Linked DNA regions of Homo sapiens. The protein of the gene in region 2 purifies or fractionates together with the protein of the main gene of each other region. This does not show direct contact. Each region holds a gene or a part of one and is shown on either strand. Other genes may lie near its edges.

The links.
Region 1: the proteins of EPSTI1 (region 2) and TRNT1 purify together in Homo sapiens (affinity purification with mass spectrometry; one large-scale study listed by BioGRID and IntAct). This does not show direct contact.

The regions. Positions count from the first base shown.
Region 1 is NC_000003.12:3,125,393-3,129,975, reverse strand, and holds the start of TRNT1 (CCA tRNA nucleotidyltransferase 1, mitochondrial), read right to left. Parts: upstream 3,037-4,583; 5' UTR 2,986-3,036; exon of another isoform or gene 1,958-2,985; intron 963-1,957; 5' UTR 936-962; coding exon 788-935; intron 58-787; exon of another isoform or gene 1-57. UniProt on the Homo sapiens protein: Nucleotidyltransferase that catalyzes the addition and repair of the essential 3'-terminal CCA sequence in tRNAs, which is necessary for the attachment of amino acids to the 3' terminus of tRNA molecules, using CTP and ATP as substrates. tRNA 3'-terminal CCA addition is required both for tRNA processing and repair.
Region 2 is NC_000013.11:42,989,419-42,993,879, reverse strand, and holds the start of EPSTI1 (epithelial-stromal interaction protein 1), read left to right. Parts: upstream 1-1,638; 5' UTR 1,639-1,714; coding exon 1,715-1,902; intron 1,903-2,697; exon of another isoform or gene 2,698-2,781; intron 2,782-4,461. UniProt on the Homo sapiens protein: Plays a role in M1 macrophage polarization and is required for the proper regulation of gene expression during M1 versus M2 macrophage differentiation.

The DNA.
Region 1 (4,583 bases), on a different chromosome or scaffold from region 2:
CAATGGAGGCAACTCCTATTTCCTTCTTCCTTCAGTTCTCATGGAAAGCATTTATACCTAGGAAGGAAACAGAGCTTAGCGGTTGCAAGCTGGGCTCTGAAATCAATCTGCGTAAGTTCGAAACCTAGCTCTCTAGTTAGTAGTTACAGAAACACAGGCAAAGCACTTCACATGCCTAACAATCTGTTTCCTTTTTCACGTAACAGGTCAAAATGTGCGTACTCATTAAGTTAGTAGCACCAGTCCTGTAATGAATGGCAAGTACTTAGCACAGCATACAGAAAAGCCATGCTTTTTACTGCAGTCAACTTCTTGCCTTTTCCAGTGATTTAGCTATATTTTTGGATCAGCCATATGTAAGCCTTTCTCTTTTAATATTCCTTTCTCTTTTTTTGAGACAGGGTCTCACTCTGTTGCCCAGGCTAGAGTGGCATGATCATAGCTCACTGCAGCCTCAAACTCCTGGGCTCAAACAATCCTCCTACCTTGGCCTCCCCAAGAGATTACAGGCTGGGTACACCCAGCCAAGCCTTTCTTCCAACAATGAAAACGTGCACATTGGGCACCGTGGCTCACACCTGTAATCCCAGCATTTTGGGAGGCCAAGGAGTGAGCCCAGGAGTTTTGAGACCAGCCTGGGCAACACAAAGAGACCCTCTACTTACGTTTTTTAATAAAAATAATTAAAACAACAATGAAAATATCCGAATGCTGGCTTAAAAAGTTAACCCTCTACTTCTCCATTTATATAGGTTTCCAATCAAGAAAAGGTATCCTAATCTCTCACCTGTCAGACTCTTCAGTCCTTCTGTGAAAAGTGACTGGAATTCGGGAGACTGCAACTTCATTGTGAATAGATACTGCTTCGGAAGGCACAGCCTACTCCACCTACGGTTCAGCACTGGCCTGTGCCAATGATACAGGCACCTCAGCATCTGGAGAGGCAGTCACCAACTACACATCTACAAGGCAAATACACAGGCATACCAATGAAATTAAAAGTGAAGGTAAGTGAAGGAAAACAAAGGGGGACACATTTCAAGTTTATCAACTCAGAAATTCATCTCTTGTTCAGATGAAAAAACTGAAAACGGTGTCAGTTTGAGGGATTACGACTAGGTCTATGTATCTACCTGGTTTTGTTCTCCAGAAGCACTTACTGTGGCAGGCGGGGTCTCACTAGCGCAGGCCTCCATAACTGTTTCAGTACTGACTGACTGGTTGAGTTACATATTAAAAGCTGAAAGAGCCAGCCAGTGCCCTTAAACAAGGCTAGAATGTAACAAAAGCCCCCCAAGAGTTTTGCCTAGGCCTTTCCTGGACCTTGAAGCATGATAAAATAACAAAGGAATTCTTTTTTTTTTTTTTTTTTTTTTTGAGATGGAGTCTCGCTCTGTCGCTCAGGCGGGAGTGCAGTGGCGCGATCTCAGCTCACTGCAACCCCTGCCTCCTGGGTTCAAGAGATTCTCCTGCCTCAGCATCCCAAGTAGCAGGGATTACAGGCGCACACCACCACATCCGGCTAATTTTTTATACTTCTGGGTAGAGACGGGGTTTTACCACGTTGGCCAGACTGCTCTCGAACTCCTGACCTCAAGTGATCTGCCCGCCTCAGCCTCCCAAAGTGCTGGGATTACAGGCGTGAGCCACTGAGCCCGGCCACAAAGGAATTCTTAACAGGACCCGTTTAGAATTAAACAAGTTTTACTGGGGATCTGAGGAAACTCCCCAGGCCTCCACGAACAAGTTTATTAGGGGTCTGAGGGAACTCCCCAAACCTCCATGATTTAGCAGGAGAGAATATAAGGGTAATCACCCCAGCACCTGGACCCATTTAGATTAAGTAAATTTACTCAGGCTCCAGAGGAAGGTCTTCAGGACTCAGATCTTATGGGTAAGAAGTTAATCACTTGTATCTTTAGATCAATGCACACTTACACATAAACATACAACTTACAAGGTATATAAGCTCTGGAAAGCTCTGTAATTCTGAGTCGGTCTGGGATATTTTCCACGCCTTCGCCCCGTACCTGGTTACAGAAATAAACTCCTTTCTTTCCTAGTTTATCTGCATCTCATTATTGGGCAGCGAGAATAAGCAGCCCAACCCTCGGTTTGGTGGTTTGGTCGGGGAGCATTACCACGACACTCGCATGCCACATGGTACTGTGATGACACTCTCCCCAGAGCAGGGCTTCAGGCAGTATGAGAGGGATGCGGGGTTCTAGAAACTCTAACCGAGTTTCTGGTCTCCAAAACTTGTCATGGTCACAGGTGGGTATCACCCTACTTCCCCACCTGCACTCGAGGATTCACGACCCTGGGATAGCTCCTAGACATTGTATTTTCCCATGAATTTAGTTTTGCTGCCCCCATTTTCCTGATTCTTTTCCTGCCATCTTGCAATCTCCTCTGATTTCTGGCACACCGCGGCCTTCCCTTCTACATATCACATCCTCGTTCTCCCCATACGGGGGTCCTGCCCATAAGGAGGCCGCAGCAGCTCTCGAGTGACCCCGGTGTAAACCTGCAGAGAAAAACCATTCCATTCCACGGAAGCGGGTGGAGGAGCCGCGCTTCCCGGCAGGCCACGTGGGGCGGAAAGACCCACTCAGTTTCCTCGCACCTCCGCCTCGACTTAGGAAAACGCTCTGGGGAACCCCAGCCCTGAAAAGGCGCGTCTCACCCCCCACGCCGGGTGCTGGCGACAAGGCCCAGTGAAAAAGCGTCTCGGGGCCGTCCGCGCGGAGGGGAAAGTGCTGAGGGAAGCCAAGGAATCCGCGCCTGCGGTCGCCGGAAACGTGGCGGGGACACGACCTCCGCGTCGGGGCTATTTTGCCCACTGCTGAGGAGGCCTCTCGCCACGTCCCGCTCCCGTCTTCCTCGAGGACCGGGCGCGGTGGCGCCTCTGGCCCACAGCAGGAAGGAAGGGGCAGCAACTCACGCCACCAACTCTGCCCCTCTGAGCGGCGCGCGCCCGCTTACCGGCCCCGCTGTTGCCGCAGCCGCCACCGCCGCCACGCGCACTTCCGGGCTGGTGAACGCGGTGACGTCACCAACGCACATGGGTTGGCGGCGAATGGGAAGTCGCGGCGGGGCGAGGGCGAGTGCGGGGGCGGGGCCCGGACCGAAGGGCTTCCGCCTCCCGTCGCTCCTCCCCACCGTGAGGCGAACCTCAGCCGGTTTCCCAGCCCCGCCGAGGCCCGCTGGGGCGAAGCGGAGCCCCGGGGGGCCCTGAGGAAACCGGCGCGGGTTCGTTTAATTACGCCCTTCTCGCCAGACCTCTGGCTGGCCCTGAGCTGCTCAGAAGCCCATCTGCGCGGCATGCCCGTGCGATCTGAGACAACTGGCAGCTGTCTTCCTTTGCAAAACGAGACTGTTAATAAAACCTACCCCAGGGTAGGACGGACTGTTCGGTAAATGTTAACTTATCCGTGTTTGACTATTCTCTCCTCTAATCTCTGCATAGGGTTAAGTCCACAGTTGACAGAGTCACGCGCATTCGAAATCTAAGCCCGCCGGTCCTATGAACTTACTGGGCATATTTTATTTTCTTACCTGGTTTGTGTAACCATTGGCCTCCTTGGCCCGGAGGCTTCCCATCTGTAACGTGGAGAACTTAGATTTGATCCAGTTCATTAATTCTTTCTAGAGCGGAAAAGAGCAAAGAGAGTGGCAAAGGAGTGGGAATACAGCCGTTGAGCCCTTAAAGTGCGAAAATGTGTAGTTTTTGTTTTGTTTTGTTTTTGAGACGGAGTTTCGCTCTTGTCGCCCAGGCTGGAGTGCGGTGGCGCGATCTGGGCTCGCTGCAACCTCCGCCTTCCGGTTTCAAGCGATGCTCCTGCCTCGGCCTCCCGAGTAGCTGGGATTACAGGTGTCTGCCACCACGCCCGGCTAATTTTTAGTAGAGACGGGGTTTTGCCGTGTTGGCCAACTGGTCTCGAACTCCTGACCTCGTGTTCCCCAGGCCTCGGCCCCCAAAAGTGCCGGGATTACTTTTGCCGGGATTCGGCCACTGCGCCCGGCCGAAAATGTGTAGTCTTTTAAGTGTAACTTTACATCACTTAGCTTTCCCTAAAATTTTCCTAGAAAAATGCTTGTGCATGTTATTTCTGTTCTTTTGCCCTCCCCACATGCCTACCTGTTCTTCCCAAACTTTTCAGCCCCACTCTCTGTAGACTTCCTAAAACGTAAAAAGTAAGATGTGCAATTACCACACCTCTTCAAGGTGTTGAATATCCTGTTTTTGGAAGCACAGGACTGGCTTTCCAAATGGACATTCAGAGGCACAGCATTGATATCATCCGGTGCAAGGATTTTCTGTCTCTCTCTCTCTTTGGGGCAAGGAAAGCCCCAAATCATCCTTTCAGGCTTGTCTGCTATTTCTCACCACCATGACCCTAGACAAACTGGACCAAAGCCTCCATTGCTGTACCCACCTAGAATAGATTCTCCAAATCACCACCTATGAAGGCAACGCTAATACAACTATTATGATGACTTACTTCGTGCCAGTTACTGTGCTGGGCACCCTCAACAATTTCTGGCCTTGTAAATATATAGTTTATATATGCAGGTGTATA
Region 2 (4,461 bases):
CAACAGTGGTTCCCAAAGGGTGATCCTGAGACTGGCATCATTGGTATCACCTGGAAATTTGTTAGAAATGCAAATCCTTGGGCCCCATCCCAGACCTGAATCAGAAACTATATATATATATTTTTGAGATGGAGTCTCTCTCTGTCGCCCAGGTGGAGGTGGGGTTTCGCCACGTTGGCTAGGCTGGTCTTCAACTCCTGATCTCCAGGTAATCCTCCTGCCTCGGCCTCCAAAAGTACTGGAATTACAGGAGTGAGCCACCGTGCCTGGCCATAAATCTGTTTTAACGCACCCTCCTCCAAGTGGTTCTGATGCTTACTGAAATTTGTGAAACTCTGGCCTACTCTACAAAACCCTAATGTCTTAGGATGGCATAGAAATCCTGACTGACTTTCCTACCATGTTCCTTGTCATTATTTTCTCCTCTCCTGTCCCACCCTGGCCCACCCTTCAATTTCATTCTTTCATTAGCTATCAAACCTGTATGTGTCTTTTTGTTCTAAGCACCAATAATATAAGGAAGACAGTCCAGCTCCTAACTGTCTTGCTGACCTAGGACTGGGGTGCTCCAGCCACATGACAACCCCTGGAATTAAGTACACACCATGTCATTTTAAGTGACAAGCCTCTGCCATAGCATCTCCTTCTTCTTGGTGAATTCCTATGTCTTTGGTGGCTCATTCTCAAATGTCCCTGTTCCTGAATTACTCAGAGGGCTAATCCCCAGTTTCTCTGTGCCTCCACAGCTGCCTGTCATTTCATTTATCCCAAAGTGGCATTCCCATTTGTTTACCTGTCTACTAGGATACTCCTAGAATGCAGGTAGCATGAGGGAAGAGCCTTCACTCATCTTTGTGTAGACGGCATTGTGACCCTGGTGACCAACCCTGGCACACATCAGAATCATCTGGGAGCTTTTCAAAAATATGAATGCCAGAGCTCACCCCTGAACCTACAGGAACTGAGCCTTACACATCCATATTTTAAAATGTCCCCACATCACCGTTGCACACTGTTCTGCACAGAGCAGGTATTTTTAATAGTTCTCGAATGTCTAGTCAATTACTTAGCAAGGCTGCCTGGAGAATCATGTCTACCTTAGCTTACTTCTCCGGCTTTGTAGGTTTTTGTTTTCTTTTGATTTCAGTTTCCATTTCCTCTAACTTGAAAGTATGTGCATTGGTAACAGCCACACAGCAGTCATTACTGATAAAAGGCGACATTTTGTTGAGATGATTTTAGTTATTGACCTAATCTCTGGTATTTTAAGGTTAATATATTTTTTACAGTCTCAAATATCCAGCGGTAACCTCAAATTAGAGTTGCCTGTTAAACAGTTTCTCAAGTATCTTTCAGGATTGTAGTCACTCTGCGGGCTAATCGCTCACCAGGTGTCCGTGGCTGATCCCAGTTATTCTGATTAACCTCTAAGGTGATTGTGAGACTTTAAACCGTCTCACCTGTAGCCGACCAAGCCAGCTCAAGTCAACATCCTGGGCTGTTAACCCGCGATAAGGTCGGACGGGGCCTCAGTGGAGAATACGTGGGGAAGTTCTCTGGGGCGGGCGCAGTCTGCTGCTGATTCTGAGAAACCGAAACTCAGCTGTTAAAACCGCTGCCTCTGCACTTTGGAATCCCATCTTGAGACTCGCTAAGCGTCCCAGCCGCATCCCTCCCGCAGCGACGGCGGCCCGGGACCCGCGGGCTGTGAACCATGAACACCCGCAATAGAGTGGTGAACTCCGGGCTCGGCGCCTCCCCTGCCTCCCGCCCGACCCGGGATCCCCAGGACCCTTCTGGGCGGCAAGGGGAGCTGAGCCCCGTGGAAGACCAGAGAGAGGGTTTGGAGGCAGCCCCTAAGGGCCCTTCGCGGGAGAGCGTCGTGCACGCGGGCCAGAGGCGGTGAGTATTTTAACAACCTGGCTTCGGGGCGGGAGCCCGGGCCCCAAACATACTCACTCACAAGCACCTTGGTCCTTGGAGTTTAAAACCACAGGGGCCCAACAACAGGGATTTTGACTGAATGAAAGCTCATTTGCTTAAATGAAAGTATCCATGCCGCACCTTATAAATTGAGTCGGCTAGTTTGCAGTCCTTTGGTAAATAACCAGCCCGGTTCCTTCCAGGAATACTACTTTCCTGATTTTTGTGACTGGCTACAGGATTGAAAGATATGGGTGTGTCGGAACTGCCTAGGCATCCAGTAAGATGTCATTTTCCAGGTATCTCCAGAACTCATACTCCAACCAGTATGGAAATAACTTTTCCCTTACTGTTTTTAAAAATTTGGTGCTGGGCCAGGCGCGTTGGCTCAAGCCTGTTATCCCAGCACTTTGGGAGGCCAAGGCAGGCAGATCACCTGAGGTCAGGAGTTCGAAACCAGCCTGGCCAACATGGTGAAACCCAGTCTTTACTAAAAATAAAAAATAAGCTGGGTGTGATGGCACGTGCCTGTAGTCCCAGCTACCTGGGAGGCTGAGGTAGGAGAATCGCTTGAACCCGGGAGGCGGAGGTTGCAGTGAGCGGAAATTGCGCCATTGCACTCCAGCCTGGGCAACAGAGCGAGACTGTCTCAAAACAAAACAAAACAGAAAAACAAAACTTGGTGTCCTAAACGGAATTACTGTATCAGACACTAACAGGTAAGGGTCAACAAGAAATGTGATATGGGGTAGAAGGTTCAAATTCTGCCTCTAGGTAGGAGCAAGCCTACGTCCCAGCAAGACTCGCAGATAAACTAGCCTCTTACAACCAGAGGAGTGGAGCTGAGAGAGTGAGGAGGTGAGTGACCATAGTACCTCTCATCCCTGATGTTGATATGTGCTCTATGCAGGAACAGATAGGTAGCTTTTATTCCTGGTCTTTGGTTCAGGGACTGCAGTGAGTATCCGGGAAACATTTATTAAGCAAGTGTCATGAGCCTCTCTTTCTAGCCAATGGAATGAACTTTAACTCAACAGTATGGTTTATCACAACATCACTGCCTTTGAAGTGCTGCCTCTGTGAATTGGAACTGTCCAGATGGTTTTATTTTTAGTCTCTCCTTTTTCATCGACTTCTAGTCTCTGAAAGACAAACCCTGGTTGCTAAGAAACAGTATATAACCTTATGGCCGATAAACAGTAGATTTTCTTTCATCCCTTAGCTTTTGGAAAGTACCAGGCCTTTAATATTATTATTTAGCTTAGGTTTACCCTTAGATGGGGTGGATAATCTGGAAATCAATTAGAGATTGTTGCATTTCTTTCCTCCTCAGAATAATTAGTGTCTCGCCACAGTAGAAGCAGCCAATTACTTTCAAGTAACCCACGTATCTACAAGCTATAGTACTTAACAGTAACAAAGGTCACAGACATATGGTCTCGTGTCCATGAATAGTTAACGATGAACATGATTTGCATGACTTTTTTCTGTTAAAAAGCATTTATTTAGATACAACCATTTATTTCTAAGCTCATATCATCGCATAAGTATTAACTGTTGCATCTGTTTTCTTATTTGGTTGTAATTACCCTGGAATCTTGCCAGATCAAATTGCTCAGAAAGAGGCAGCTTTCTGATGGGTTATCCAGGCCTTAATACCCTGAAGAGCTCACTGTACACTATTTTGCGATTCCTGAAAAGATTTTCAAATGAACCATTAAAAAAATACCAGGAAGTGTTTAGTTATCTCTCACAGAGTCTTCCTTTTTTTTTTTTTTTTTCCTCATGTGAACCAGTTGCAGTAAGTACAGAATTATATATTCCCTTTTAGGGGTTTGATGTCTGAGATCCTGTTGGGATGACTTTGAATTTTTGTTGCATCTCCATTAGTTACTTAGATTCACTTTCTCACTTGTTTCCTTTAATGAAGTTGGAAAACCAAGGAAAATGAATGGCAAATATCTCAGTAGAATTAGCTGCCTACCCGCTGCCCCAAAATAAAGAAGGCTTTATTTATTTTGGGGATAAAAATTAGAAACACTTTCTGATTTAAAAAAATGAAGAGGCCGGGCATGGTGTCTCACGCCTGTAATCCCAGCACTTTGGGAGGCCGAGGAGGGCGGATCACGAGGTCAGGAGATGGAGACCATCCTGGCTAACACAGTGAAACCCCGTCTCTACTAAAAATACAAAAAATTAGCTGGGCATGGTGGCAGGCGCCTGTAGTCCCAGCTACTTGGGAGGCTGAGGCAGGAGAATGGCGTGAACCCGGGAGGCAGAGCTTGCAGTGAGCCGAGATCGCGCCACTACACTCCAGCCTGGGCGACAGAGTGAGACTCTGTCTCAAAAACAAAACAAAACAAAACAAAAAGCAAAAAAAAAAAAAAAAGAAAAAAGAGGATAAAGTGCTTTAATAGTACAGTTTCATTTGTCCACTCATAATGTGAATTTATTTATATGGTAAAAGATTTGTCTTGTTTTGTGGGAATCCTTCCATTAATTTCCTCCTGCAGCCCCAGTGTGGGGATTAGGAATATG